Regions from separate parts of the Homo sapiens genome. Here regions 1 and 3 are each linked to region 2. Evidence: fine-mapped expression QTL. A gene starts in region 2. Each other region holds a variant in brackets. All regions are shown on one strand. Distances are between the middles of the regions.

Evidence for each region. PIP is the estimated chance that this variant, and not a neighbour inherited with it, causes the effect. A credible set is the group of variants that fine-mapping cannot tell apart.
Region 1: its variant is the best candidate, but not a certain one, in a credible set for the expression of RPAP1 in cerebral cortex (GTEx, PIP 0.86).
Region 3: its variant is the best candidate, but not a certain one, in a credible set for the expression of RPAP1 in hippocampus (GTEx, PIP 0.83).

Annotation. Positions count from the first base shown.
Region 1 is chr15:41,504,202-41,514,154 of GRCh38, forward strand. It overlaps LTK (leukocyte receptor tyrosine kinase), which reads right to left and starts at 9,626. Exons shown (of 20, transcript NM_002344.6): 1 at 9,466-9,626; 2 at 8,776-8,919; 3 at 8,506-8,677; 4 at 7,914-8,064; 5 at 7,616-7,762; 6 at 7,221-7,377; 7 at 6,963-7,145; 8 at 4,830-4,928; 9 at 3,868-4,020; 10 at 3,361-3,456; 11 at 2,894-3,089; 12 at 1,714-1,804; 13 at 1,512-1,576; 14 at 1,200-1,329; 6 more. The coding sequence starts at 9,508. RefSeq lists an enhancer at 8,458-9,205 and a silencer at 8,912-8,991. The variant G/T (reference allele first, on the strand shown) is at 5,113.
Region 2 is chr15:41,539,818-41,549,770 of GRCh38, forward strand. RPAP1 (RNA polymerase II associated protein 1) reads right to left here and starts at 4,440. Exons shown (of 25, transcript NM_015540.4): 1 at 4,402-4,440. RefSeq lists a silencer at 3,000-3,200 and enhancers at 3,680-4,261, 4,195-4,584.
Region 3 is chr15:41,521,079-41,530,432 of GRCh38, forward strand. It overlaps RPAP1 (RNA polymerase II associated protein 1), which reads right to left. Exons shown (of 25, transcript NM_015540.4): 8 at 8,786-8,901; 9 at 8,392-8,490; 10 at 7,157-7,258; 11 at 6,782-6,949; 12 at 6,345-6,527; 13 at 6,089-6,223; 14 at 5,820-5,990; 15 at 3,913-4,070; 16 at 3,018-3,176; 17 at 2,693-2,894; 18 at 2,167-2,276; 19 at 1,687-1,882; 20 at 1,020-1,172; 21 at 660-802; 1 more. Among named protein-coding and RNA genes, the nearest start is that of LTK, 12 kb to the left of the region's middle. The variant T/G (reference allele first, on the strand shown) is at 2,914.

The DNA.
Region 1 (9,953 bases), 36 kb before region 2:
GCCCCAGCTCCATTGGCAGGAGTGAATTCAGCACATCCGGGTCCTGTAATGGAAGAGTCAGGGAGCAGGGGGGCATAGAGTTTTCTGGCCCTCCCTCCTGACCCACAAGACCAGGATGTTAGATTAGGTCGGGGGCACACCTGAGTGCAGTACTGCAGACGCTCCAAGATGCTGGCAAAGCTAGGGCGGAGCTCAGGCTCGTGCTGCCAACACTGGGTCATGATGCGGTACCTGGGGAGAGGCAGGAGTTCATGCCCACCCATGGTTGTGAAGGACCTCCCTTCCCGGGCAGCACTCAACTCACACAGGCCCTGGGCAGCCCCTAGGAGGGTCCATCCGGCCTCCTCCAACGACGAAGTCCAGCACCTCCTGGTTGGTGCGCCCAGGATAGGGCATGTAGCCCAGTGAGAAGATCTCCCAGAGCAGCACCCCAAAAGACCTGCATCACAAGTGGGGGAACCAAGTGAGGCCCGTCAGGTGTAGCCTCCCCTCACATGAGGTGGCTGGAAAGGACAGGATTAGCCTCAGGGGAGGGGAACAGTGGGGAAGGGGAGGGGAAGGGTGTTATCACCAGGAATCTGTCTTGGATGTGAAGATGCCCTCCAGGAAGGCCTCTGGGGGCATCCACTTGACTGGGAGCAAGGCCCGGTCCCCCCTGCGGTAATAACTGGCCCTACAGGAGGGAGGAGGTGAATGATGAGTTGTTCACCACCAAGGTGCGGGGAAAACCCCCTTGGAGCAAGAGCCTTCCCACCTCCCAAGTCCCGCACCGGTAGATATCTCGTGCCATCCCAAAGTCCCCAATCTTGGCCACTCGGCTGGGTCCAGCGCAGCTCAGCAGGCAGTTCCGGGCGGCAATATCCCTACAGAGTAGGCAAAAAAAATCACTGCCAGAATCTAGAAGTTCTTGCTCTTCCTGATCTATTTCCTTAAAAGCTGTGTGGAAGGGCTGTTCCTTGGGGAGGGAGTTGGGATGGGGGTCCCCTGAGCCAGGACTGCTCCTAACCTGTGGATGAAGTGATTTTCCTCCAGGTAGTGGCAGCCCTGGGCTATGTCCTGGGCCAGTTGCAGCAGGTCCCGCATGACCAGAGGTGATGGCTGGCCCTGGGTCAGGCAGAGGGGGCATCAGTCCATGTAGGTCTCAGACACATGGACAGGGTCTTTAGAGGGGCCTGGGGGGGCTAAGACAAGGGTCTCACCAGGTGTGGCCGACTGTGCCTCAGGAAACTCTTCATGTCCCCTCCAGACATCAGTTCCAGCAGAATGAGGCGAGGGGTGGCCCTGAGGCTGAGCCCCACACACCGCACAATGTTCTGATGGCGAAACTTGCTGAGTGGGGTGGGGGACATATCCCGTTACCAGGAGGGAGACGGAAACCATGTTTTAGGCTCCACAAAGCTGGAGAGGCCCTCTGTGTCCCCTGACTTGCTACCTCAGCCTCAGGGTGAAGAGAAACTGTTCCCGGGCATTCCCCTCCCGCCTTCCAGCCCTGCCCCTGGTCCCAGGTGCACCTGATGATGAGGGCCTCCATGAGGAAATCCAGCTCATCCTGAGGCGAGCAGAGTTCTGGCAGGGTCTGGGGAGGAAAAGGGCACAGTTTCTGAGCTGCCCTGCACGCTTCAGGAGAGGGGGTTAACCCTAGCTCTAGTCATTGTCCTTCCCTTCAGGGTGTTCCGCTCTCCTACCCCCAGCCAGAAGTCCCACTCCTCTCACCTTGATAGCTACCTGCAGGGGACTGGAGTCCCCAGGAAGGCCAATTACCAGTCCCTCATACACCTCCCCAAAGGCACCATGGCCCAGGGCTCTGCAGGAAGACACGTTGGAAGGGAGTGGGCAGGCGGCCTGGAGAAGAGTCCTAGAGAGTCTAGTACCCCCTTTACCTCCCCTGCCCCTGCCATATGCCCAGCTGACCCTATATAGACTCTCTCCATACCATGGCATGTCCCCAGGTAGAAGCCCTGCAAGGGTGGTGCTCACTGGCATAGAGCCAGGGCAAAAAAGAGGGCAGATGCGGGCCAGAGTCAAGGTGGGAGTGCATGATGAGGACTTCCCTGGTCCCTGCAGACGCCCTGGGCGGGAGGCAATCCCTGGGCTCCAAGAGTCATGATTTTTTTTCTTTTTTAAACGAAGTCTCACTCTGTCATGCAGGCTGGAGTGCAATAGCGCGATCTCGGCTCACTGCAACCTCTGCCTCTCGGGTTCAAGTGATTCTCCTGCCTCAGTCTCCCGAGTAGCTGGGACTACAGGCAAGCGCCACAACGCCCAGCTATTTTTTGTGTTTTTAGTAGACACAGGGTTTCACCATGTTGGCCAGGCTGGTCTCGAACCCCTGACCTCAGGTGATCCACCTGCCTTGGCCTCCCAAAGTGCTGAGATTACAGGCGCCAGATCATATTTTTTTTTTATTGAGACAGAGTCTCACTCTGTCGCCCTGGCTGGAGTGCAATGGCGCAATCTCGGCTCACCACAACCTCCGCCTCCCAGGTTCAAGTGATTCTTCTGCCTCAGCCTCCCACGTAGCTGGGATTACAGGCATGCGCCACCATGCCCAGCTAATTTTGTATTTTTAGTAGAGATGGGGTTTCTCCATGTTGGTCAGGCTGGTCTCGAACTCCCGACCTCAGGTGACCTGCCTGCCTCGACCTCCCAAAGTTCTGGGATTACAGGTGTGAGCCACCACGCCCAGCTGAGAGATCATATTCTAAGAACTGGGACGGAGAGGTGACATTGAGCAAGTTACTTCCCCTTCTGGAGCTTCTCAGGGCCTCCCTCTCCCTTACACAAGGGATGTGGGCCAGATTTTTTCTGGGACTTATAATTCACTACAGCAGGGAGAGAATCAGAGGTGGGGATTCAGAGTGCATAGGTTCTCAGAAGGAGGCAGAAGACTTACCTGAGCAGAGTAACATTGGCTGGGGAAACCTCGGTGACACCTGGTGGCAGAGGCCAGGACTGGGCCGGGCCAAGCCCCACCTGGCAATAATAGGGATTGGGGGCTGTCCTGATGGCAGAGGTTCGAAGCTTGCTCAGCTCAAGCTCAGGGCTCGGCAGCCTCATCTCCTGCAGGCCCTGCCACTTCTTCTGCTTCACTGGGGGTGGGAAGAATAACGGCACACCCTCCACCTGCCCATCAACTCTCCCTCCCCCACCTGCCCAGGACACCCCTCCAGATGCTCATTAAGGTAAACGTTTTCCCCAGGCCTCCCCAGCTCCTTCCTATCTTAGAATCCCAGAGGAGTCTACCACGGCTCTGCTGCGGTGAGTGGTCTTGAAGTCAGCCCCGGGACCCCGCAGAAACCCATCCCAGCTCACTGGAGAGGAGCAGCCTTGAATCAACTGTGCCTGCTAGACGCTTCGTACCCAGAATCAGGACCCCACACACCATAAGGAGGCTCAGTGTTGAGGTTGCCACCACAGCCACCATCAGAACCAGAGGGCCTGGGGGCTTGTGCAGGTCTAGGGAGAAAGAGAGACACCTCCAGTGGGAAGGTCTTCTCTGTTCCTTTACCCTCAAGTTTTACCCACGCTTCAAGACTCAGCTCAAGTGTTAATTTTTCCATGATGCCTTCCCCCATTATCCTGGGCAAAAGCAACCTCTCCCTCTTGAACACCCCTAAAGCACTTTATACCTCCCACAACAATCGTCACTTGAGATATACATTTACATAGCTATATCTAAACATCCTCCCACACTGGACGACAGGCCTCTGAAAGGCACTGTGCACCGATGAATCTCCAATCCCCTGCCCAGCACCCACCACAGGGCCTGGCACACAGCAAATCTCTATACCATCTTTCCCAGTGGCCTACTGCTCCTCCCAGTCTGTGACCCCAGGAGTCCAGACCTTGGGCAAAGGTAGGACATACCCATGCAGGTGACGTTATCCACAGCTAGCTCCATGCCTTCTGGGCACAGGCATTCAGCCAGCTGGAGCTCTGCCTGCCATTGGCAGTCTCTCAAAGGGCAGTGACTGCAGTTGAGGTGCCTTCGGATCTCTACCTCTCCGTGGTTCTCGGTGACTGTGAGTAAAAGAACTGATATGATATGGTGTGGTAGGGCTGGGATATAGTAAATACATGCCTTTGGCTGGGTACAGTGGCACACGCCTATAATCATTGCACTTTGGGAGGCCGTGGTGAGCGGATCACCGGAGGTCAGAAGTTCAAGACCAGCCTGGCCAACCCCGCCTCTACTAAAAATACAAAATTAGCCGGGTGTGGTGGCGCACGCCTGCAATCCCAGCTACTCCAGCACTGAGGCTGCAGAATCACTTGAACCCGGGAGGCGGAGGTTGCAGTGACCCAAGATCGCACCACTGCACTCCAGCCTGGGTGACAGAGCGAGACTCTGTCTCAAAAATAAAAATAAATAAATAAATAAATAAATAAATAAATAAATAAATACATGCCTTTTCCAGCCACATGGTTAATTCTAGCCCAGGACTTTAGAGCAAAGAGCAGCACCAAGCTTACAAGGGTGGTGAGAGAAGCTGGGGGACTTCTGTCAAGCCTGCACACTCCCAGGTATTTGAAGCGAATTCATAGCAAGGGGGTACTTGAAAAGCACGCAGCATGCCCTGCATTGCCATCCAGCACGACTGGCAGCCCACTTTCCTTTTTTTTAAGACAGAGTTTTGCTCTTGTCGCCCAGGCTGGAGTGCAATGGCATGATGACAGCCCACTTTTCAAATGACCCTATGCTATGCAAGAATCCTGTGCTATGCAAGGTTATTCACAGTGCAGGTGGCTCTTCAGTGCAGTGCAGGAGTGGGCTCAGGGACTGCGGAAGAAGTCCAGGCCAGGCTCAGAGGTGGGGTTGGGGCCAATACCTGCCAGAGGCTGCAGGAAGAGCTCGCTGCTGGGGTGTATGAAGGATACTCCATCTTCCCCATCAGCCCAGAGGTTGTCAGTCTCTGAAGCGTCGCCCCCTGGAAGTGGAGAGTGATGGAGAGTTTGACTACAAAAATGGGGGATGGGGGAGAAGCTGGAATCTCCCGGTGGAAATCCCAGTGTGGCCCTCTCTTCTCCAGCATCATGATGCAAATGCTGTCTGTTCACAAGTGGGAGTGAAGGAGGTGAGGAGGGGGTAATCAGCTGGAGCCTGAAGGCCTC[G/T]CTGAGGCTGGCTGGGATGCCTCCTGCCTGCCTGAGCCCCTCCTGTCCCATGTCCTCACAGTCCCTTTCTGTGAGAATGTAGATCATGTGTGTATGTATGAGCAGTACAGCCCAGACAGGCACAAAGGCATTTACACTAGTTATTTGATCAAAACACAGATGACTGGGACTCTCCCTTACAGTTTCTGATTCAGTATGTTAGAGAAGGGCTGAGAATTCGCATTTCTTTTTAAAAATTAATTTTTAATTAAAAATAAAAATTCAGGGCCAGGTGTGGTGGCTCACGCCTGTAATCCCAGCACTTTGGGAGGCCGACATGGGCGGATTACGAGGTCAGGAGTCCGAGACTAGCCTGACCAACATGGTGAAACCCCATCTCTACTAAAAATACAAAAATTAGCCGGGCATGGTGGCGCATGCCTATAATCCCAGCTACTCAGGAGGCTGAGGCAGGAGAATTGCTTGAACCCGGGAGGCGGAGGTTGCAGTGAGCTGAGATTTGTACTACTGCACTCCAGCCTGGGCAACAGAGCCAGACTCCATCTAAAAAAAAAATTCATATATTTATTGTATACAGCATGATGTTTTGAAATATGTACACACTGTGCAATGGCTAATGCAAACCAATATATACACCACCTCACATGCTTATTTTCTGTGGTAAGAACACCTATAATCTACGCTCTTACCAATTTTCTTTTCTTTTTTTTTGAGACAGAGTCTTGCTCTGTCACCCAGGCTGGAGTGCAGTGGCACGATCTTGGCTCACTGCAACCTCCGCCTCCCGGGTTCAAGCGATTTTCCTGTCTCAGCTTCCCGAGTAGCTGGGACTACAGGCATATGCCACCACGCCCGGCTAATTTTTGTATTTTTAGTACAGATGGGGGTTTCACCATATTGGCCAGGCTGGCCTCAAACTCCTGACCTCAAGATCCACCCGCCTCCGCCGCCCAAAGTGTTGAGATTACAGGCGTGAGCCACCGCGCCCCGCCTCTCTTAGCGATTTTCAAGAATACATCGTCATTAACTACAGTCACCATGTAGTACAGTAGATTCTGGAAGGTATTCCTCCTATTTAACTGCCATTTTGCATTGTTTTGACCAGCATCTCCCCAACCTTCCCCCAACTCCCAGGATAATTTCCATTGTTTTTTTTTTAATCTTTGAGACAGAATTTCCCTCTTGTCGCCCAGGCTGAAGTGCAATGGAGTGATCTCGGCTCACTGCAACCTCCGCCTCCCAGGTTCAAGCAATTCTCCTGCCTCAGCCTCCAGAGTAGCTGGGATTACAGGCTCCCGCCACCACGCCCGGCTAATTTTTGTATTTTTAGTACAGACAGGGTTTCACAGGTTGGCCAGACTGGTCTCGAACTGGTGACCTCAGGTGATCCACCTGCCTTGGCCTCCCAGAGTGCTAGAATTACAGGCGTGAGCCACCAGGCCCAGCTGATAATGTGCATTTCGAACAACTTAGGTTGTGGGGATATTACCTGTTCCTGGACCACACTTTGAGAACCACTGACTTAACCCAATCCTGCCTTTCTGCCCCTTTGCTCAGCTTGCTCACTCGGCCAGCTCTAAGTTCTGAAGACTGCTGCAGAACAAGGCAGGGACCTGCTGTGATGGGAAAGATCCTGGATTAAACGGAAATCTAGGGAGTCCTGTCTGCATGCTGATTTGCAGTGTATTTGACCTCCTTTTCTAAGAGCTCCTGCTTTTTGTTTGGAGCTGCTGAGCAGGGCTTAATGCCTCTCCCACACCTATCCTCCCGAGGGCTCCGGCCTGTACTTAGGTTCTAACATCACCTCACCCTCGGGCCTGCTCAGCTGCCCTCTCCAACGGTGCACCTACCCCTGTAGCCGCCGCCGCCTCCGCCCGCAGTGCAGGCCCCGCCGCCGCCCCCGAAGCCGCCGGCCGCGGCCCAGCCAAGGGTCGCCCAAGCCTCGGAGCAGCCCTGGCCGCCCTCCGCCCCCTCCTGCAGTGAGCGGCCGGCCTGCGGAGAGGGAGCCCGCGACGTCCAGCCGCCCCCACCACCTGCAGAGCGACAGCAGGAAGGTTGGCAGCCACACGGGGAGCACGCCCGCCTCTCCCCGCGGCCCGCGCCCTCACCTGCCGCCCCGCCTCTCCCGCCGCTCCCGGGCGCCTCCGAGCGGTTCTCCAGTTTCTCGGGGGAGGCCTGAGTCCGGCCTCGGTCCCGCGGCCTCAGGTAGGCCCGACCGCCGCCTCCGGCCGCCACCAGCAACGGTTCCAGCTCGCCAGCGCGCACCTGTGGGGCCAGCGGCGTGTTCCAGGAAGCGCCCTCCAGCTGTCCAGGGGCACTGCCACTGGGAGAGGGCTCCCGCCCAGGGGGCCTGGATAAGGGCAGGGGCCCCCAGCCCAGCCCAGGCCAGCCCAGCCCAGCGCAGGGATAGGGGGACCCCAAGGGACGGACGGAGAGCCGGTGCGTGAGCGCCCCTGGGGAGAGGATTGGGACCCCAACGCTGAGCGCCGAAGGGAGCACGTACCCGGAAAACGTAGGTGGCGCCCCCGCCACCCCCGCCACCTCCCGCCCAGCGCCGCGACCCCGGGACCCCTTCGCTCCCATCCATCGCCGCGTGCTCTTCAACGGCTCGAGACTCCCCGAGGCAGACGAGCTGGCTCTCCGGGCTACCCTGCGGGCAGCGGGGGAGGGAATCGGCGGGGCCCGGGAGCCTCCCCTCGCTGTGCTGGTGACCCGGCACCGAGGAAAGCACGCTCCCCCGGCCCCCAGGCAGCCCTCGCCCCCGGCGCCGGCGCCGCCCCATCCCCACTGGCTGCGCTCACTCCGGGACAGGCGTCCTCTCCCTGCTGCCCCACCAGGATGTACAGCGACTCCCCGAGACCGAGGGAGAAGATTGCTGAGACGAAGACGCCATGCGCCCGCGACAGGTGGTTCTTGGCGCCTTTGCCGCCCGCGGCTCCGTAGGCTGAGATCCTGCGGGGAACGGACGGTGAGTCCCCGGCCTTCGGTGCTCAGGCCGGCCGCTCCGGGCAGAAGTTGGCGACAGAGGAGGCTCCAGAATTATTTTTTATCTGAGGGACTTGGAGGCTGCAATCGACTCTGACGGGATGGGAAGGGTAGGTTTGCACACCGAAAAATCAGATATTACACTTATTTCAGGAGGGTTCGTGGAAATGTGGGGAGGCTCAAGCACCCCTTGGCGCCGCCCTGGTTGGGGGCCTTCCGCTCGGTGTAAGAGGTTCCGGGTAAGGGCTAACTCGGTGGCGACTACTGCCACCTTGAAGGGCACTCAAGGTGGACCTCCCCGCGGAATAGTCCAAGACGCAAGTCGGTGCGCACGTGGACTTCGTTACCCTGAGGGTGAAACCTCCAACTAGCAGGTCACTGTCCACCCTACCTCCGCCGTGCACTTACAGATACTGGCCAGGGCCCGGCACGCGCCACAGCTGCACGCCTCTCAGCTGCCCGGCGGCCCCCACGGTCACCACCACGCTGGTCCCCGCGTACGCCCCGTCACATTGTGTCTGTGTGGGCCCATGCCGGCCGCTGGCCCCGCAGGTAGAAAACAGCCAAGACCCCTCGGTGCCTGAGAGCAAGGAGCGAGGCAAGGGTCGTCGAGCCCCTGGCTGGGCCAGAGGGGTCTGGTATGGTGAGCGAAAGAGGAAGGAGGCGTCTAAAGCTCACCCGGAGAATTCAGCGGGGAGGCTGGCTCCAAGATACTAGGCGGGGCGCTGACTTTCGGGTCCCGGGGGCTGGGACTTGCCAGCGGCAGGGGCGAGGACCGCAGAAAAGTCTCCTGGGACCCCGGGCTAGAGCAGAGAATGGCGCCTGAAAGGTGTTGGGAGAAGGCGCAGGACGTTAAGGCGGGTGGAAATAGGATATGAAAGAAAGAGAGAACCCCGCAACAGCTGCCCTTGCGGTCGCGGCCACACCCGTCACCCGGCCCAGCCGCGCTCTCAGCCTGGAAGCCACTACCCGACTCCGGTCGCAGAAGCCCCGCGGGTGCGCGCTGATAGGTCTGCCAGTTTCTCTCCTCGAGCGCCTTTCCCAGTGAATAACTTAGGGGCCGCAATGAATTTGGTCCTGCAGCCTCCCCAATGCTTTCCTCAACTTAGATTGGTGGCCCCGCCCCAAGGCGGTGCTGAGACCCCAAAGAATGTTCCTCCTTCCCAAGCTGCGTGATCCAGACTCTGGGATTCGCACGCACTTGGCGCTTCTCGGCCCGCACTCCAGAAGCACGGACCGGAGAAATTTGGCTGTGAGAGTTCGAGGCCTCTGGAGGAACCACTGACACCTGGCCTGTTGACCGGCCACCCCCAAGCCTAGGAAAGTGCCTCAGGCTGGACGGTCCCCTGACCGCCAGATAGCACTTACCCGCGGCTCCGAACCACACCAGCAGCTGTCCCCAGCAGCCCATCCCTGTTGGGTCCACCCGGCAACAAAAGCCCTTGCGGTCGCGGCCACACCCCTGTCAACCTAAAGTTGACAGCTCATTTTGCCACGGCAGCCCTGGCCACCACTTACAGGGGTGTGCTGCCGCTGGCGAGACACTCCCCGGACCTAAAGCTGGTCTGGCCACGCCCACCTCAGACCCCAGGACGCCAGAGGAGGAAAGGGAGGGGCGTGTGGGCAGCGAGGTCCCTACGCTTCCGGGAGGAGCCTTAAGGAGTCCCCACCCAGGGGTTCTAGTTTCCAGCCGTCAGATGTGCCGCAGCCTGCTGGGAGCTCCGGTAGGTTTGAGGCCGGAGAGGAGGTGCCCCACGCTTAAAGTGGGAGCCACACCTCGGACACCAGGTGGGGGCTTCCAGGTTCCTGAGGACAGGAGCAGTGGAGTGTGCACTTCATTTGTGGCAGTGGTGGTG
Region 2 (9,953 bases):
ACGAGGTCAGGAGTTCAAACCAGCCTGACCAACATGGTGAAGTCTCTACTAAAAATACAAAAAAAATTAGCCGGGTGTGGTGGCAGGTGCCTGTAATCCTAGCTACTCAGGAGGCTGAGGCAGAAGAATCACTTGAACCTGGGAGGCGGAGGCTGCAGTGAGCCAAGATCGTACCACTGCACTCCAGCCTGGGCGACAGAGTGAGACTCCGTCTCAAAAAAATAATAATAATAAAATAAAATGATGACTTCTGTGGTATATAAACTATAAATCAATTATAAAACAAAAAACGCTGGGCTGGCCAAAGATATCTGCAAGCTGGCTGGCTAGTTTTGGAACCCCTGAGCTAGATGCTGATAATAATAAAAATATTGTTATATCTAACACTTATTGAGCACTTAGTATGCACCACATACTGTTCTCTAAGCACTTTTTCCATATTCATTCATTTAATCCTCATAACAGCCTAGGAGGTAGGTTACTACTATTTTTTTTTTTTTTGAGATGGAGTTTCACTCTTGTTGCCCAGGCTGGAGTGCAATGGCACGATCTCGGCTCACTGCAACCTCCGCCTCCCAGGTTCAAGCGATTCTCCTGCCTCAGTCTCCCTAGTAGCTGGGATTATAGGCATGTGCCACCACGCCCAGCTAATTTTGTATTTTTAGTAGAGACTGGGTTTCTCCATGTTGGTCAGGCTGGTCTCGAACTCCCGACCTCAGGTGATCTGCCCGCCTCTGCCTCCCAAAGTGCTGGGATTACAGGCGTGAGCCACTGCAACGGGCCAGTTACTACTATTATTCAAATTTTACAGCTGAGAAAAGAATAGTGCTGAGAAGTTAAGTATTTGCTCAAGGTCTCAGTGTAAGTGTGTGCTAGGATTAGGATTCAATCCCAGTCAGTCCATGCTCTTACCCACTATGTTCTACTGCCTACTGCTGTGTGGTGCCTGGGTGTCCTGGAAGTCTGGAATAGTGAGGCAGATGGGGAAGAACTATAAAGAATCTCCTGAAGAGCAAAGGCTGCAACTACACTAAGGTTTCTCAATAGGGACTATTGATCTTTATAGCTGGGTAATTCTTTGCTGTGGGAAGCTGTCCTGCGCACTGTAGGATGTTTAGCGGCATTCCTGGCTTTTACCCACTAGACGTCATCATCAAACCTCCTCCCCTAGTTGTGACAAGTAAAAATGTCTGCAGACATTGCCAAATGTCACCTCAGAAAAAAATCACCCCCAGTTGAAAACCACTGAACCAGACCTTGAAGGATAAGATAGGCCTCCAGCCAGAAGGGAGAGCTGGGCAAAGGTATAGAAGCAGGGAATAGGGCCGGGCGCAGTGGCTCACACCTGTAATCCCAGCACTTTGAGGCTGAGGTGGGTGGATCATCTGAGGTCAGGAGTTCAAGACCAGCTTGGCCAACATGGTGAAACCCCATCTCTACTAAAAATACAAAAAAATTAGGCAGGCGTGGTGGCATGTGCCTGTACTCCCAGCTACTTGGGAGGCTGAGGCAGGAGAACGGTTTGAACCCAGGAGGTGGAGGTTGCAGTGAGCCAAGATTACACCACTGCCCTCCAGCTTGGGTGACAGAGCTAGACTCCATCTTGAAAAAAAAAAAAAAAAAAGCAGGGAATAAATATGGTACATGGGAGAACATGATGAAGTTGACCACCTCCTAAAAGTTGAAGGAGGATGAGATGGAGAGGTAGACAAGCTAGATAGCTGGAACTAACAATAGTGCTGAATGAAGGCCGGGTGTGCTGGCTCACGCCTGTAATCCCAGCACTTTGGGAGGCCAAGGCAGGCAGATCACGAGGTCAGAAGATCGAGACCATCCTGGCTAACACGGTGAAATGCCGTCTCTACTAAAAATACAAAAAATTAGCTGGGTGTGGTAGCACGCGCCTGTAGTCCCAGCTACTGGGGAGGCTGAGGCAGGAGAATGGCGTGAACCCGGGAAGTGGAGGTTGCAATGAGCCAAGATCGTGCCACTGCACTCCAGCCTGGGGGACAGAGCATGAGACTCTGTCTCAAAAAAAAAGTGCTGAATGACACATTTCCTTACTTTTTCTTCATCTACTTCTAAGCAGGATCAGATCTAATAACTAAGCCAGCCTTGGAAACACCTCCCAACACAGGGGTTGGGGGCAGGCTAAAGGGGTAGAAATGGTGAAACAATCACATGACGGTGTGACCTTAAGAACATTATCAAAAAATTTTTTGAGAGTTTACTCTGGGCTGAGCGGTGTACAAGGGGCTGTAAATATAAAGAAATGGGAGTAAAATCCAGTCCCTGGGTTCAAGGGGCTTACTGGGGAGACAGAGACCATGCCGAAATGCTGGGTCTTTTAATAATTTCCCACTTCATTATCTCTCTTTGCCCACACAAGTCTAGAAATTCCAAAGGTTTACAGTTTAAATGATGTCTCCAAGATTGTAAAGGTCTTCCTTTGGTCAATGATGTACCCAAAGTTGGGGTGAGAGAATATGGTAAACACACATATAAATTTACAAGGCAGTACATCCCAGTGATGAAATTAATTGCATAGAAGATCAGTGCTACACGATTTCAGAGGTGGGAAAAATCCCTAAAGGTTAAAAATAGAGGTCAATATTGAAAGAGAAAACTTAGATAAGTAGAGAACTGAAGGAAGTGGATGAAGTGAGCAAAGACCTGTCTACAAAATTTCATCTTAAATTTGGCATAGAACTTGTATTAATTACTATTTGTAGCATGACAACAGCGAAGTATACAGATGTGCCTTTTCCTGGATGGGAGGTAAACAGTATGAAAATGGACTGCCTGTGTTCAAATCCAGGCTCTGCCATTTACTAACTGTGTAAGCTTAAGCAAGGTATTTTACTGAAGTTACTGTGCTTGTTTCCTCATCTGTAACATGAAGATAACTGTACCTACCTCCTGAATTAATTATATATATGTAAGAAGATTAGAACAGAGTCTCATACATGAAAGGACACAAACGCCAGTTATGATTCTTATTATTTATATAGCCAAAGGGCAGATAACCATATCTAATTGTTGGGCAGTCTGACCAACAAACAAGGAAAAAGTCTCCTACCCCAATGCCTACCCAAAGGCCCTAAGGAAGGCTGAACTAGATGAACTGAGAATCCATAGTATGGTAACAATTCACTCCTATAAGAGTCTACATAAGCAGAAACAATTCCTACTTATCCATGGATTCATGTGATCCAAAAGCAAAGTCCAGCTCACTTCATAGGGTGCGCCATACCTACATCACAAAGAGAGCCAGGGGGTTATGGGCACCAGTTTTGGAATCAATAGGCCAGAAGTCAAATACCAGTTCCGCTACTTACTAAATGCACTAAATGTGCGAAATTAGGCAAATTATCAATGCTGTCCTTTTTTTTTTTTTTTTTTTTTTTTTGAGACAGATTCTCCCTCTTGTTGCCCAGGCTGGAGTGCAATAGCACGATCTCGGCACACTGCAACCTCCGCCTCCTGGGTTCAAGTGATTCTCCTGCCTCAGGCTCCCGAGTAGCTGGGATTACAGGCGCCTGCCACCACGCCCGGCTAATTTTTTGTATTTTTTTAGTACAGACGGGGTTTCACCATGTTGGCCAGACTGGTCTCGAACTCCTGATCTCAGGTGACCCGCCCGCCTCGGCCTCCCAAAGTGCTGGGATTACAGGCGTGAGCCACCGTGCGCGGCCTCTATGCTGTCTTAAGTCCCATTTCCACAACTGTAAAATGTGAGTAACAGGTCCTATATAATAGGAAATGTGTGAGGATTTAAATGACTATACACGCAAAACGCCTAGCCCAGTGCCTGTTACTTATATAAATAAACCTCAGTAACAATTATTTTAGTCCTAAGTAAAGCCACCAGTGTGTTTCCCCACAAATCCAGCGCAGATTTGTCCAGAACCAATCAGTGCTAGAAGTGATAACATTTTCAGTTATTAATAGAATAAGAATGGGTTGGCCGGGCGCGGTGGCTCACGCCTGTAATCCTAAAGAGTAATGCCTAAAGAGTAACTCGTAAAAAAAAGTAGTCCTAACAATGGACCTCTGGGTTTATGTTGGCCTCTGAGGAGTCTCTGGGGCTCTTACATTGCAGCCTATCCTCCAGAGCCAGGATCCAATCCCGAGTCGGGACGCGTGACTGCCCTTACCGCTCAGGTCAAGGGCTCCAGTTAAGCCTCCTGGACCACCCAACTCTACAATGAGGAATCATCGAGTCGCAGCTTTCGCCGCCCGTTGAAGGGCCGTGCCCGAGATCTATGCACAGAGGAGGCCACAGTTGCTCCCTTACAGACCAAAGGCCCGCAGGCAGGTTCCAGCAAAGAAACTGGACACGCTACCCTGGGTCCTCCTCCCAGATCACCTGAAATCCGTCCCTCCAGCCCCGCCACCTACGTGCTCCAGGCCTGTCTGGGCGCCGCCATCTTGCCCCGCAGAGATCGCGTTTCCGCCGCCGCCAGATTCCAGCTTCCGCCCCGCAGCCCAGCCCCGCCTCTCCCGGTCTTATCTCGGAGCATTCTGGGCTTTGCTTGTTCAGTGCAGCGGACTGGTGAGCGCGGTGCTGCGCGGCTGGCGGTTTATTACCCCCACGTAAGCTCTATACCATCACCCAGAACACACATCCTTTTTTTTTTTTTTTTTTTTTGAGACAGAGTCTTGCTCTGTCGCACAGGCTGGAGTGCTGTGGCGCAATCTCGGCTCACTGCAACCTCCGCCTCCCGGGCTCAAGCGATTCTTGTGCCTCAGCCTCCCGAGTAGCTGGGATTACAGGTGCCCGCCACCACGTCTGGCTAATTTTTGTATTTTTAGTAGAGACGGGGTTTCACCATGTTGGCCAAGCTGGTCTCGAACTCCCGACCTTAGGTAATCCGCCCGCCTCGGCCCCCCAAAGTGCTGTGATTACAGGATGTGCCACCGCGCCTGGCCCACACATGCTTCTGATGTACAGCAGGCACAGCCCCTTCTGCACTTACGACACCCCTGGCAGGGACACAGCGTTCCTCAGACGTCCCTCTGCACTCACCAGCCAGTGTTACCACATCCCACATCCCAGCACCCACGCCCACGGCAGCACACAGAAACGTGGACACACACACACACCCCAACGTGACGAATGTGTTTATGGAAGAGCTAGAAGGTAACCATGAAAAAGGCCCAAGGAAAGAACACTGCCAGTGTGCACTGCAGAAATAGTGGTGGTGAGAAGAGAGGGAATAAAGCTTCCTTGCTAGCAAGGTTATCATCTTCTCCAGAATCTTGCCTTTGTTCATCCCACTCTCCCTTCTTGGAAATCCTCCCTCTTTTCCCTGCCACCCCTGTCTCCAAAGGATAACTCTTTAAGGCCTAGCTGGCGTCAACTCTAAAACCTCTGCCAGCCACGCCTACTCACCAAACTTTCCTTGGATTCACCTGGAATCTCACCGCCTGCACCAGTTGTGTGGTATGCTAAGAACACACTGCCAACTACCAACTGTCACCGGTTACCTTTTCACAGGCTTATGTCCTGTTCCCTTGAATAGACTGTCAGTTCCTTGTGGGCACCAGACCTTGTACTTTGCATCTAAATACTGAGCACCCAACGTGTTGCCATGCACATAGTAGGACCTTAAGTAAATCATTTCTAGACCAAAGGACATCATGGGGCAGCCAATGTTAGTCCAGTGGCTTTCCAACTTTAACAGGCACCAGAATCAACTGGAAGTCTTGTTAAACCAGATTGCTGGGGCCAGGCACAGTGGCACATGCCTATAATCCCAGTACTTTGGGAGGCTGAAGCTGGCAGATCACCTAAGGTCAGGAGTTCGAGACCAGCCTGACCAACATGGTGAAACCCCATCTCTACTAAAAATATAAAAATTAGCAGGGCATGGTGGTGTCCATCTGTAGTCCCAGCTACTCAAGAGGCTGAGCCAGGAGAATCACTTGAACCTGGGAAGCGGAGGTTGCAGTGAGCCAAGATGGAACCACTGCACTCCAGATTGGGCCACAGAGCCAGACTCTGTTTCAAACAAAACGAAACAGATTGCTGGGCCTCAACCTCTGAGTTTCTGATTCAGTAGGTTTTTCTTTTTCTTTCTTTTTTTTTTTTTAAGACGGAGTCTTGCTCTTGTCGCCCAGGCTGGAGTGCAATAGCATGATCTCGGCACACTGCAACCTCCTCCTGGGTTCAAGTGATTCTCCTGCCTCAGCCTCCCGAGTAGCTGGGATTACAGGCGCCCGCCACCATGCCCAGCTAATTTTTGTATTTTTAGTAGAGACGGGGTTTCACCATGTTGGCCAGGCTGGTCTCGAGCTCCTGACCTCAGGTGATCCACCTACGTCAGCTTCCTAAAGTGCTGGGATTACAGGCATGAGCTACTGCACCTGGCCTGTTTCAGTAGGTTTCCTTTTTTTTTGTGACAGAGTCTCGCTCTGTCGCCCAGGCTGGAGTGCACTGGCGCAGTCTCAGCTCACTGCAACCTGCACCTCCCGGGTTCACACCATTCTCCTGCCTCAGCCTCCTGAGTAGCTGGGACTACAGGCACCTGTCACCATGCCGGGCTACTTTTTTGTATTTTTAGTAGAGACAGGGTTTCACCGTGTTAGCCAGGATGGTCTCCATCTCCTGACCTCGTGATCTGCCCGCCTTGGCCTCCCAAAGTGCTGGGATTACAGGCGTGAGCCACCGTGCCCAGCCGATTCAGTAGGTTTCTAATAGAGCCCCAAAATTTGTATTTCTACCAAGTTTCTAGGTGATGCTGCTGGTCCCGCACTATAGCAGATCTATAATCCTCTTGGCTTCAACTACAGATGTAAATTTCGGCTACTAGGATTTAGTCATCTTGAGGTCCAAAATAGTACTAGACCTGGTCAGAAGTTATGGAGGCAGCGGGATGAGGGAGAGGAACTGGAGCCAAATATGCAGAATGAATGATAGTAGAAAATAATTGTTCGCAATGAAATAACGAGATAATGGCTCCTGGCAATGGTGCCACCACGCCCAGCTAAGTTTTGTATTTTTAGTAGGGACACGGTTGGACCATGTTGGCCAGGTTGGTCACGAACTCCTGACCTCAGGTGATCTGGCCTCCCAAATGCTGGGACTATAGGCATAAGCCACCATCCCCAGCTCCAGCATTCTGTTTTAACAAGCCTTCCACTTAATTTTGGTGCCTGCTAAGGTTGGAAAACACACCCAGCCTCATATAAAGTCTTCATCAACCTTTGACCTAATAGTTTTAACAGTCATTGTTTAACAACTAGGTGAAAGGTTGATGCAGACTTTATATGGATGGATCAGGTTGCCATTATATGAACTTACTGATGAATCTTTTCTACTGTTTTGAGATAGGGTCTTGCTCTGTTGCCCAGGCTGGAGTGCAGTGGTGCAACCTCAGCTCACTGCAACCTCTGCTTCCCTCTGCTTGCTGAGCTCAAGCGATTCTCCTGCCTCAACCTCCTGAATAGCTGGGATCACAGGCCTGAACCAAACGTGGCTAATTCTTTTATTTTTTGTAGTGACAGGGTTTTGCCATGTCACCTAGTCTGGTGTCAAACTCCTGGGCTCTAGTGACTCACCCGCCGCAGCCTCCCAAAATGCTGGAATTACAGGCATGAGTCACTGCACCAGCCGAGACTATTTATTTATTATTTATTTTATTTTATGTTGTTGAGATGGAGTCTTGCTCTGTTGCCCAGGCTGGAGTGCAGTGGCATGATCTCGGCTCACTGCAGCCTCCGCCTCCTGGGTTCAAGTGGTTCTCCTGCCTCAGCCTCCTAAGTAGCTGTGATTACAGGCGTGTGCCACCATACCTGGCTAACTTTTTTCTTTTTTTTTTGAGACGGAGTTTCGCTCTTGTTGCCAAGCTGCAGGGCAATGGTGTGATCTCGGCTCACTGCAAACTCTGCCTCCTGGGTTCAAGTGATTATCTTGCCTCAGCCTCCCAGGTAGCTGGGGTTACAGGCACATGCCACCATGCCCGGCTAATTTTTGTATTTTGAGTAGAGACAAGGTTTCAATTCACCATGTTGACCAGGCTGGTCTCATACTCCTGACTTCAGGTGTTCTACCCACCTCGGCCTCCCAAAGTGCTGGGATTACAGGCGTGAGCCACTGCGTCCAGCCAATTTTTGTATTTTTAGTAGAGACAGGGTTTCACCATGTTGGTCAGGCTGGTCTCAAACTCCTGACCTCAGGTGATTTGCCCACCTCAGCCTCCCAAAATGCTGGGATTACAAGTGTAAGCCACTGCACTGGGCAGAGACTATAACATATGAAATGCGGTCTTTGTTTATATCTTCATTTTTGAAACTGTTTTTTTGAGACTGTTAGGGAATACTAAATATAAACTAGATTTTGTATGATATTAAGGATTTACTTTTTTTTTTTTTTGAGATAGGGTCTTGCTTTGTCACCGAGGCTGGAGTGCAGTGGTGCTGTCATGACTCACTGCAGCCTCGACCTCCTAGGCTCAAGTGATCCTCCCACCTCAGCCTCCCAAGTAGCTGGGACCACAGGTGCATGCCACCACACCCAGCGAGGATTTATGAAATTTTTATTGGGTAAGACTATGTTTTTTTGTTTCAAAGACTGGGTGTGGTGGCTCATGCTTATAATCTCAGCACTTTGGTAGGCTGAGGCAGGAGTATTGCTTGTGGCCAGGAATTCAAGACCAGCCCGGGCAACGTAGGAAGACCCTGTTCTATAAAAAAAATTTTTTTTAATTAGCTGGGTGTGGTGGCACCTATAGTCCTAGCGATGCAGCGGCGGGGGAATAGCTTGATCCCAGGAATGTGAGGCTGCAGCAAGCTGTTTGCACAACTGCACCCCAGCCTCAGTGACAGAATGAGACTTTGTCGCTAAAAAGAATTTTTTTTTTTTTGAGACGGAGTCTCGCTCATGTCGCCCAGGCTGGAGTGCAATGGTGCAATCTCAGCTCACTGCAACCTCCACCTCCCGGGTTCAAGCTATTCGCCTGCCTTAGCTTCCTAAGTAGCAGGGATTACAGGTGCCCACCACCACGCCTAGCTAATTTTTGTACTTTTAGTAGACACGGGGTTTCGCCATGTTGTCCAGGATGGTCTCAAACTCCTGACCTCAGGTGATCCGCCTGCCTCAGCCTCCCAAAGTGCTGGGATCACAGGAGTGAGCCACTGCACCTGGCAAAAGAATAATTTTTTTTTTCACTTTGTCGCCCAGTCTGGAGTGCAGTGGCGTGATCTCGGCTCACTGCAAGCTCCGCCTCCCGGGTTCACGCCATTCTCCTGCCTCAGCCTCCGAGTAGCTGGGACTACAGGCGCCCGCCACCATGTCCAGCTAATTTTTTTGTATTTTTAGTAGAGACGGGGTTTCACCGTGTTAGCCAGATGGTCTCAATCTCCTGACCTCGTGATCCACCCGCCTCGGCCTCCCAAAGTGCTGGGATTACAGGCGTGAGCCACTGCGCCCGGCCATTGTTTCTTTTCTAGGATCACATCAAAGATACCACATTACATTTATTTTTATGTATGTATTTATGTATGTATGTATTTTTTGAGACAGAGTCTCGCTCTGTCGCCTAGGCTGGAATGGAGTGGCGCAATCTCAGCTCACTGCAACCTCCACCTTCCAGGTTCAAGAGATTCTCGTGCCTCAGTCTCCTGTGTAGCTGAGATTACAGGCACCCATCACCATGTCCTGTTAATTTTTGTATTTTTTGTAGAGACAGCGTTTCACCATGTTGGCCAGGCTGGTTTCGAACTCCTGACCTCAAGTGATCTGCCAGCCTTGGGCTCCCAAAGTGCTAGGATTGCAGGCATGAGCCATCATGCTGGGCCTTTATTTATTTTTGAGACAGGGTCTCCTCTGTTGCCCAGGCTGGAGTGCAGTGGCACAATCACAGTTTACCACAGCTTCAACCTCCTGGGCTCAAGCTATCCTCCTACCTTAGCCACCCAAGTAGCTGGAACCACAGGTGTGTGCCATCAGG
Region 3 (9,354 bases), 19 kb before region 2:
ACCCTGCTGCTTCCTAACGACAGCTGGTCAGAGAAGTCGGCTGCCTCTGGACCCCCTGATGTTCTTTCCCTGTAATGGGACCCAAAAGCCAAAAATGAGGGCTGGAACCACAGCACTTGGAGGCTGTGCCAGCTCTTTGGAACTTCCTGGAGGCTCCTAGGTCCAGACCTGTGCCTCTCTGCTCCCTTAACTACTTCCCGCGCAGTGCTGTGTAGCAGTTAAGAGGATGCACACTACAGCCAGCTGCCTAGGCATGAGTTTACATAACTTCTCTGGGCCTCAGTTTCCTCAGAGTAAAATAAGGATAATAATAGTATCTATCTCATGGTCCAAGTAAAATACTTAAAATGTAGATAAATACATAAGGGAGTATCAAACACAGAGTAAACACTCAGTAGCGGATGGCTATTACATGTGTGTAACTGATTTAGATACCATTTTTTTAGCCATGCAGTCACACTGAAGTCTCACAATCATTCTTGGGTGTGGTTAGCCTGATCCTCACTTCACTAATGAGGTAATGGAAGCTCGGAAGAGTTAAGTGTCGTCGGTGGAAGAAAGAGAATTTAGGTCTCCTGGCTCCAAATTCAGGGCTGCTCTGTTAACAACTGCAGCAGCGTCCAAAAGGGCTGAGTTGATGCCACCAACCAAGCACTTACGGGAGGAACTCCAGCCGGAATACACAGCTCAGCAGCAGCTCATGGGTGAGGTACTCACTTCCGGGCAGCAGCCGGCTCAGCAGGGCCAAGGCCATACCATGATAGAGGGCAGCATGGGTGGCTGGCAGTGGCTGCAGCGCTGCCTGCAGACAGAAAAGCAGGGAACTACCTAGTACAGGAGAAGGGGACGTGGCAGAGAGAAGTGAGGAAGAGGATAAAAGTGAGGCTGAAGGGCAGAGGTCCAGGGCATGTCTGGAGGAAAGTGGGAGCTGCATGGCCTGGCAGAAGCAGGCTGGGTTCCACAGAAACAGGAAGGAGATAATGGGATGACAGGAGAACCTGTCAGACAGGGGGACCTACCGCTTTCTGGGCCAGAGCGAGTGCCAGGTACTGCAGGTGGTACTCATGGCGCAGGGCCCATGCAGAGAAAGGTGTGAGGTGTGGGGCAGCCCCAGGAGCCACACACTGGAGGAAGTAATTCTGGAGTCCCGGGGCAGCCAATATGGCAGCCAGCTGAGGAAAAGCAATTTTGTTCAGATCTAGAAATTGACTCTCATGCCTTCTAGGGCTCCCCAGGTGGCTGCCCCTCTCCAGACTCAGGGAAATGAGTGCCAGCAGAAGGCCTCCCTTCCCCATGGGACACCCTCCCACTTTCTTTTTGGTTTTTTTTGAGATGGAGTTTCGCTCTTGTTGCCCAGGCTGCAGTGCAATGGTGTGATCTCAGCTCACCGCAGCCTCCGCCTCCCGGGTTCAAGTGATTCTCCTGCCTCAGCCTCCCGAGTAGCTGGGATTACAGGCATGTGCCATCATGCCTGGCTAATTTTGTATTTTTAGTAGAGATGGGGTTTCTCCATGTTGGCCAGGCTGGTCTCGAACTCCCGACCTCAGGTGATCTGCCCACCTCGGCCTCCCAAACTGCTGGGATTACAGGCGTGAGCCACCGCGCCCATCCCACCCTCCCACTTTCTTTCTGATTCCTGCCATCTTGGCCCCTTGCCTGGCCCCTAATCAGGCACCCCACACTTACCTGGCCACACAGCCCCTTGTGGATCTGGGCCAGGGTATTAAGAAGAGAGAGGAGGGCAGTGAGGAATGGGAAGGGTGAGGCTGAGCCAGCCAGACTGAGACGGGGGCAGCCTCCCGAGCAGCCCAGTGACACGAGGCTGGGGGGAGCTTCAAGGGCTGGCACACAGGACAGCGGGTTGCAGAGAAGGGAGCAGTGCCTGTAGGTGAAGTGGAGAGTCTGAGGGGGACTCTGGCCTGGCGTGTGCCAAGCTGGAAAGAGCTTCTGGGTCTGTACCTAAGACTAACGGGGGGCCTGGCTGTGGAGGTCAGTGCTGCTCACACTCCTCAGAGCCCACCCCACTGCTGCCTGCTAGGGACTCGGGTTTCCCTCGGGCCGAGGGCCTGCACCCTGGGATGGACCTGGGAGCTGGACCCAGGAATCCCACAAGGAAAGAAATTGCCTCCTCCCCTGCTTCCCCCAGCTACCAAACACAGTACATACCTAAGGGAATCCCACAGGCTGCCCAGTGTGGGCTGACTCAGCAGTGGCAGCAGCAGCTCCTCTGACAGGCGCTGCATGTCCTGGAGCCAATCCTCCGGGCATGAGCTTGGCTGGTGGACCAAGGAATTCACTGAGCTGATGGCCCAGCCATTCATTCTCCTAGACCCTGTGTACCCAGGCCAATGCCACCATCCCAACAGCCCAAAAGAGCACATTTGGAGGCTTCTGCAGGCTGAGCCTTCTGAAGGGAGAGAAGGCCCCGATGTGTAGGGGGCATAAAGAGGGAGCACACAGGCTACAGGAAGGCTGAGCTGCTGCGTGGGCTCTCTGGTCCCCACCAACATGGCTCCTGGGAAGCTCCACGGGGATATGGAGGTAGAAAGAGGAGGAAGGGTAGGAATTAAAAGGGAAGATAGTAAATGGGGAAGTAGGAGTGGAGAGATGGACACAGAGAGGGAGCAACGGGTGGAATGTAGCTGAAGGCAGGGTGCGGGGGCCTGGTGGACAGCCGGCAGGAGGCACTCACTTGCTGGCTCCAGGCCTGGTAGTAGGCTCCCAGGAACAACAGGCAGGCAACGGGCACTGGGCCCACGGCTCTCCACATCTCAGGTCTGGACAGCAACTTCAAGGTCTGCCTTAGACACGGCTCAACAAGAGGCTGGAGCCCAGACACCTGTGTCCAAGTGACTAAGGAAGGGGTGGCCGAGAGGCTGGCCTCAGCAGAATCACTACAAAAGTGCCAAAGGG[T/G]GCCACAGTGAGGATCTGGCTGCCTCACGCCCCTTTACACTCCAGCCACCCCAGCCCTGTGGAGGAGCCCTCCACCTGTCCTGTGGGTCCTGGCTATAAACTACCTGATGGTTTCAGCAGGGGTACTGCCGGCTGCCAGGGTTAGCTGGGTGAGGAGAGTGAGCAGTGAGGCTATCCGCTGCATGGACAGGGGTTGAGGTGGGTGGGTGCTGAGCTCCCGCGGCACCACCTGCAAGGCCCGCATCAGCACTGGGTAGAGCTCCCTAGGGAAGAACAGGGACTGATTTTCACTGTATGAAAGCAAGTGGAGACATGAGACACAGGTCATGGCCCTGACCCAGGGATCTGCAGTTTGATAAAGGAGGATGAGGAGGAAGAGTGGGGCACTCTTGGAAGGCTCAGCCCTAAAGAATGGAAAGGATGTTGTCCTTCAAGGCTGCCCCCAACAGGGAATTTAAATGTGATTTCACAGATACCAATGCTTTTTTTTTTTTTTTTTTGAGACATTCTCTGTTGCCCAGGCTGGAGTGCAGTGGAGTGATGGAGTGATCTCGGCTCACTGCAACCTCTGCCTCCCAGGTTAAACCGGTTCTCCTGCCTCAGCCTGCCGAGTAGTTGGGATTACAGGTGTGTGCCACCACGCCTGGCTAATTTTTGTATTTTTAATAGAGACGGGGTTTCACCATATTGGCCAGGATGGTCTCGAACTCCTGACTTCGTGATACGCCTACCTTGGCATCCCAAAGTGCTGGGATTACAGGCATGAGCCACAGTGCCCGGCTAATGATTTTGAGCATAGAATACGGTTAAGCCAGGTTTATCCCCCTCTTCCCTGGCTGGGCCTGACTCCTAAGCCTTTTCACATCTGGCAGAAGCCCTCCCACTCATTCTTATCCTTCCTCCAAGCTTGGGACCTTGAGCAAGGCTGAGGTGTTTGATTTGGCCAGAAGAGCAGAACTGAAGGTGTCTAGGGGGAGCCTACCCCCTGCCTCTCCTCACCTGTAAAGGTAACCGCCCTGGCCATAGGAGGCAGCCACAGCCCACAGACGGAGGGCCTCGGTGCTCAGCATCTCAGCTTCCTCTGGGGGCAAGGCCAGTTCTTGGGGAGCCTCAGCTATGATGCGGCACAGGCGGCTCCGGAGATCAAAGCTGCTCAACTGGAAATGGGCACAGTCTGAGGATCAGGGTCAGCTGTGAGTCTCAAGTCCAGCTACTCTCAGCTGGACAGAGAGTGGCTTAACTCAACCCTGACCCAGGCCCCTCTGGTGCCACAAAGTCATACCTCATCCACCCTGCCCTTCCTTCTTATTATTTATTTAAAATTTCAATTTTATTATTTTACTTTTTATTATTTATTATTATTTTGAGATGGAGTCTTGCTCTGTTGCCCTGGCTGGAGTGCAGTGGAGTGATCTTGGCTCACCACAACTTCTGTCTCCCAGGTTCAAGAGACTCTCCTGCCTCAGCCTCCCAAGTAGCTGGGACTACAGGCATGCGCCACCATGCCCGACTAATTTTTGTATTTTTAGTAGAGACGGGGTTTCATTATGTTGGCCAGGCTGGTGTCGAACTGCTGACCTCGTGATTCACCCACCTCGGCCTTCCAAAACGTTGGGATTACAGGTGTGAGCCACCGCACCCAGCCCCTATTATTTTTTTATTTTTATTATTATTATTTTTTTAGATGGAGTCTCGCTCTGTCGCCCAGGCTGGAGTGCAGTGGCGCAATCTCGGCTCACTGCAATCTCTGCCCCTCCAGGTTTAAGCAATTCTCTGCCTCAGCCTCTGGAGTAGCCGGGATTACAGGCGCATGCCACCACGCCTGGCTAATTTTTTGTATTTTTAGTAGAGACAGGGTTTCACCATCTTGGTCAGGCTGGTCTTGAACTCCTGACCTCATGATCCACCTGCCTTGGCCTCCCAAAGTGCTGGGATTACAGGTGTGAGCCACCGCGCCCGGCCCTATTATTTGTTTTTAGATGGAATCTTGCTCTGCCACCCAGGCTGGAATGCAGTGGTGTGATCTTGGCTCACTCCACCCTCCATCTCCCGGGTTCAAGCAATTCTCCTGCCTCAGCCTCCCAAGTAGCTGGGACTACAGGCGCACACTATTATACCTGGCTAATTTTTGTAGTTTTAGTAGAGGTGGGGTTTTGCCATATTGGCCAGGCTGGTCTCGAACTCCTGACCTCAAGTGATCCACCACCTCGGTCTCCCAAAGTGTTGTGATTACAGGCGTGAGCCACTGCACCTGGCCAGTAGTAGTATTTTTGAGACGGGGTCTCGCCCTGTTGCCTAGGCTGTAGTGCAGTGATTGGTGCAACCAGCCCACTGCAGCCTCCACCTCCCAGCTCAAGTGATCCTTCTACCTCAGCCTACCGAGTAGCTGAGACTACAGTCATGTGCTACCACATCTAGCTAATTTTTTGTTTTTGTTTTTTGTAGAGACAGAGTCTTGCTATGTTGTCCAGGCTGGCCCCTGAACTCTTGGCCCCAAGTGATCCTCCTGCCTTGGCCTCCCAAAGTGCTGGGATTACAGGCCTGAGCCACTACACCCAGCCCTCCCTCTTTATAGCAAGGCTTGCTGGGCACCTTCTCTAGGGCTACTTGGCTATAGATGATGAATGCCTATGTGCATGAAGCCCTTCTGATCTGGGTCTAGGGAACAGGGAGACCTCCTATTACATCATGAGACCACAGTATACCTATATGATGCACCAGGCTCCAGTAAACAGGCTCCAGTAAACAGGTTCATGCCTGGTGATTTCTGTTGCATTTCTAAGCAACTGGATCAGAGAGGAAGAAGATGGCAAGAGCTGGCCACCCAGAGTTCAGGAGCCATGTTTAGCTCCCAACCCAACCCTGTCCCATGCATTCCCCCATCCCTTGCCCTGTGTCCTGCTCACCAGCCGGGCAGCAATATTCCTCCCAGCTGAGGCCAGGACACGAAGTAGTTTCATGGCAGTAGCACAGGGTACTTTGTATAGACTAGGGGTAGGCCCTGCCCCCACAGGAGACCAACTGGTGGGCAAGAACTCTCGAACTATAGTCTCTATCAGCCGAGGGCACTCCAGGACCTATGGGAGACAGGAGGTAAAAGGGAGGAAGGGAGGCTGTGGGTCAAGACAAGGCCCAGCTAGGCTTTTTGCCCATTCCCTGCTCCCTTTTTTCTCACCCTTGTGGCTGATTCCAGGGAATGCCGGGCCAGGCGGATGAGCACAGCCAGGATGTCAAGGACCACCGCAGGTCCTGGGTATGTCACCTCCAGCACGTAGCGCAGCCGAGGCAGCAGGCTGGTAGCCAGGAGCCCCTGGGAGTTGGAGAGAGAAACCCACTGACAAATGCAGCTGGACCCTGGGCATTGATGGCCCCTCTTTCCAGCATGTGCTTGTCCCCTGGGCCATGGGATGGGAAAGAAGCTGTCCCTTTACCTTGATGACATCATGTCGGGCCAGGTCAGGTGGAGGCCGGCTTTCTTCTTCAGGGCTTTTCCTTTTTGCTTTTCCTGCTGGGCATTCTTCATCCTCGTCCTCATCCTCCTTGTCCTCCTGGCTGGGCATCAGAGGGAACGTCAAAGCTCCATGGTACCAAGAGAAGGTGCTGTCGAGGAGCTCCTGCCAGAGGAACGGGAGTTGGGGGGCAATGCTGAAGGGGCCAGGAAATGGATCCAGGAGTAGAGAGGATGCTCCCCAATAAAAACCATAAAGGCAAGCCTCCTGGGCTTTAGGGACTTTAGGAGATGAGGGAGACGCCTGCCATCCCATTCTACATCTTGCCCGCAAAGCCTTAGCAATGGGGCCATGCCCAGGAACAGGAATATGGACCCTGGCACCTCCCAGCCCAAGCCCCATTCCTATCCCTGTGGTACCTCATCTCCAGGAGCCACCAGCAGAGCCCGAAGAGCACGGATGGCGGTTGCAATGACCCCATCCACTCTGTCATCCAAGGAGAAGCGCAGTAGGAAGAGGAAACCAGCATCCAAAAGGAGGCTTAAGACACTGCCTGCTAGCCGGTCCCCAAACTCACCAGCCTGGGCCTGAGGGCAGGAGGGTAAAACCTTGCTGAAGATGCTGAAGTTATCTAGAGGCTTTGCCCTAATCCTTCGTTTGCCCCCCTATGATCCTAGGTTGTTAAAAGCACATAGCTGGCTAGTGAGCCAGAGTGAAAAGGGCAGGAGATGGGGAAGTCTGAGGCTGTGGGGTGAAGGGAAGGGTGGGCAGGACCAGGCTGGCAATCCACTCACCCTGCTGATGACCTGGGCTAACACATGCAGTGCCAGTGCTCTCTGCTGGGAAACCTGGCTGCGGGTCAGGTGGAACAGCTCCTGTAGGGAATACCCCGCTCTCTGGGGCAGGGACAAGAAGTCAGAAGCAGCCAGGATACAGCACAGTGCCCCCAAAACACCAAGCAAGGTATCACAGGAAAGACAAAGATAAATAAGTGAAATCTGCCCTGCTTTCCATGGAGCCTCAAGCCGGTAAAGATAAGACTTGCATACAAGTAACCATGCCATGAGGCAGATGCAGAGGAACGTGATAACTGATGTTTAATTTGCGACCGGCGGACAGGAGAGAGAGAGAAGGGAACCTGGAAAATTAAATTGGTCTCAGTGGATGGGTAGAGCTTTGATGGCCTGACATGGAGCAAAAGGCAAAGGCATTTCCTGGAGCGAGTGGAGTCCTGGAGGGCCCTGAGCACAGGAGGTATGTGGGGAGAAGCCAGCAGAGTGGTGTAGCAGGAAGTGAAGGAGGCAGAGCAGCAGGGTCAGCAGGGACAAAAGGTAGAAGGAATATCTTGCCCAGCTGAGACCAGAACCTTATTTTGTGAGCAGAGGGAAGCTGGGAAACTTCTGGAGGCAAGGCATGGCCTGAGCTGGGCCAGAAGAAATCAGCACAGCAGCCCCGAGAGACATGGAATGGCAGGGGGGCGGAGAATGGAGGGCATGGAGAGTGAGCAGACCAAGGAAGCAAGGCCACAGTGCAGGAGGCATCATGAGGAGGTGACAGAAGATCGGCAAATTCTAGCAACTGACCAGAATACGGAGAGAGGATCAAGATTTTGAGCCTAAGAAACTGAATGCCACGCCTGTAATCCCAGCACTTTGGGAGGCCGAGGCAGGCGGATCACAAGCTCAGGAGATCAAGACCATCCTGGCTAACATGGTGAAACCCCGTCTCTACTAAAAATACAAAAATTAGCTGGACGTGGTGGCATGCGCCTGTAATCCCAGCTAGTCAGGAGGCTGAGGCAGGAGAATGGCTTGAACCCAGGAGGTGGAGGCTGCAGTGAGCCAAGATCATACCACTGCACTCCAGCCTGGGCCAGAGCGAGATTCTGTCTCCAAAAAAAGAAACTGAATGCACAGCAAAGGCATGAACTAGAACAGGGCACACAGAAGGTCAAAGGCAGTTGACCAGAGATCCTTTTCCATGGGGTTGTTAAAAGAGCTGCCCCATCCTCTCCAGTCCCATGCCTCACCTCTGCCTCCTCTCCATGGTGGTGCAGACCCAGGTGGGTGGGCAGGTCCACGTCAGGGGCCAGTAGTTCTCCCTGAAGACTGAATCGAGCCTGCATCCTCTAATGGGAAGAGAAAGAGGACTGTGGTCTGGGGGCTCCAGCAACCTTCCCACACCCACTCCCCACCTTTAATCCCAGGCCTTTCAGGACTTAGGTACTGACTCTACTTCTACCAGAAATGGGGCTTATCTGGCCTTGGGGGCCAGGCAGAGTGATGGTAAAGGTGGGTGAGAGCAAAGGAGAGATGCTTCTCAGGCTCTGGGCAATAGAAAGGCCTGAGTTCTGAGGGCAAGAGCAGCAGCTCCTCTCCTGCCCTATCTCACCCACCCCTTGTAGGCCAGGTGGCCCTCCTCACCTCCTGTGTCTGCTGCCGCCGGACAGGGGGCAAGTCCTGGGTCCAGTGGAGCTTCTCCAGCTCGACAGTGTCCATGTGCAGCCATTCTTTCTGAGGGGTCACGGGCAATGCCAGAGCTGGGGAGACAAAGCATGATAGTATTACCCAAACGGCTCAGCTCACTATCCACAGGGGTCCCCACCATCACCCAGCAGCTGCCACATCCACTTCTGTTCCAGGATCTGCCAGCTTCTACCCTCGGTTATGGCTAAATGGCATGGCCCAGGGACTGGAACTCCTGGGGCTGGGGTGAAAGTCTCAAATATGACAGACACACTCCATCCTGGGCTCCAGCCCCTTGCTGACCCCAAGGATTTGTTGGGAGGGGAGAGAGGAGGAGAAGGAGAAGGAAGAAAGAGAAAGAAAGGAGAAAAAGATGAAGAAGGAGGACCACATATGTCAGGAAGGCACCATCTCCACTTTCCAGTACCAGCCCTTAAAGGAGTAGGAGAGTGGGGACAATGAGGAGGAGGCAACTATACTGCTCCTGGGGGGCAGGATACAGAAACAAATCCCACAGCATTTTCCTC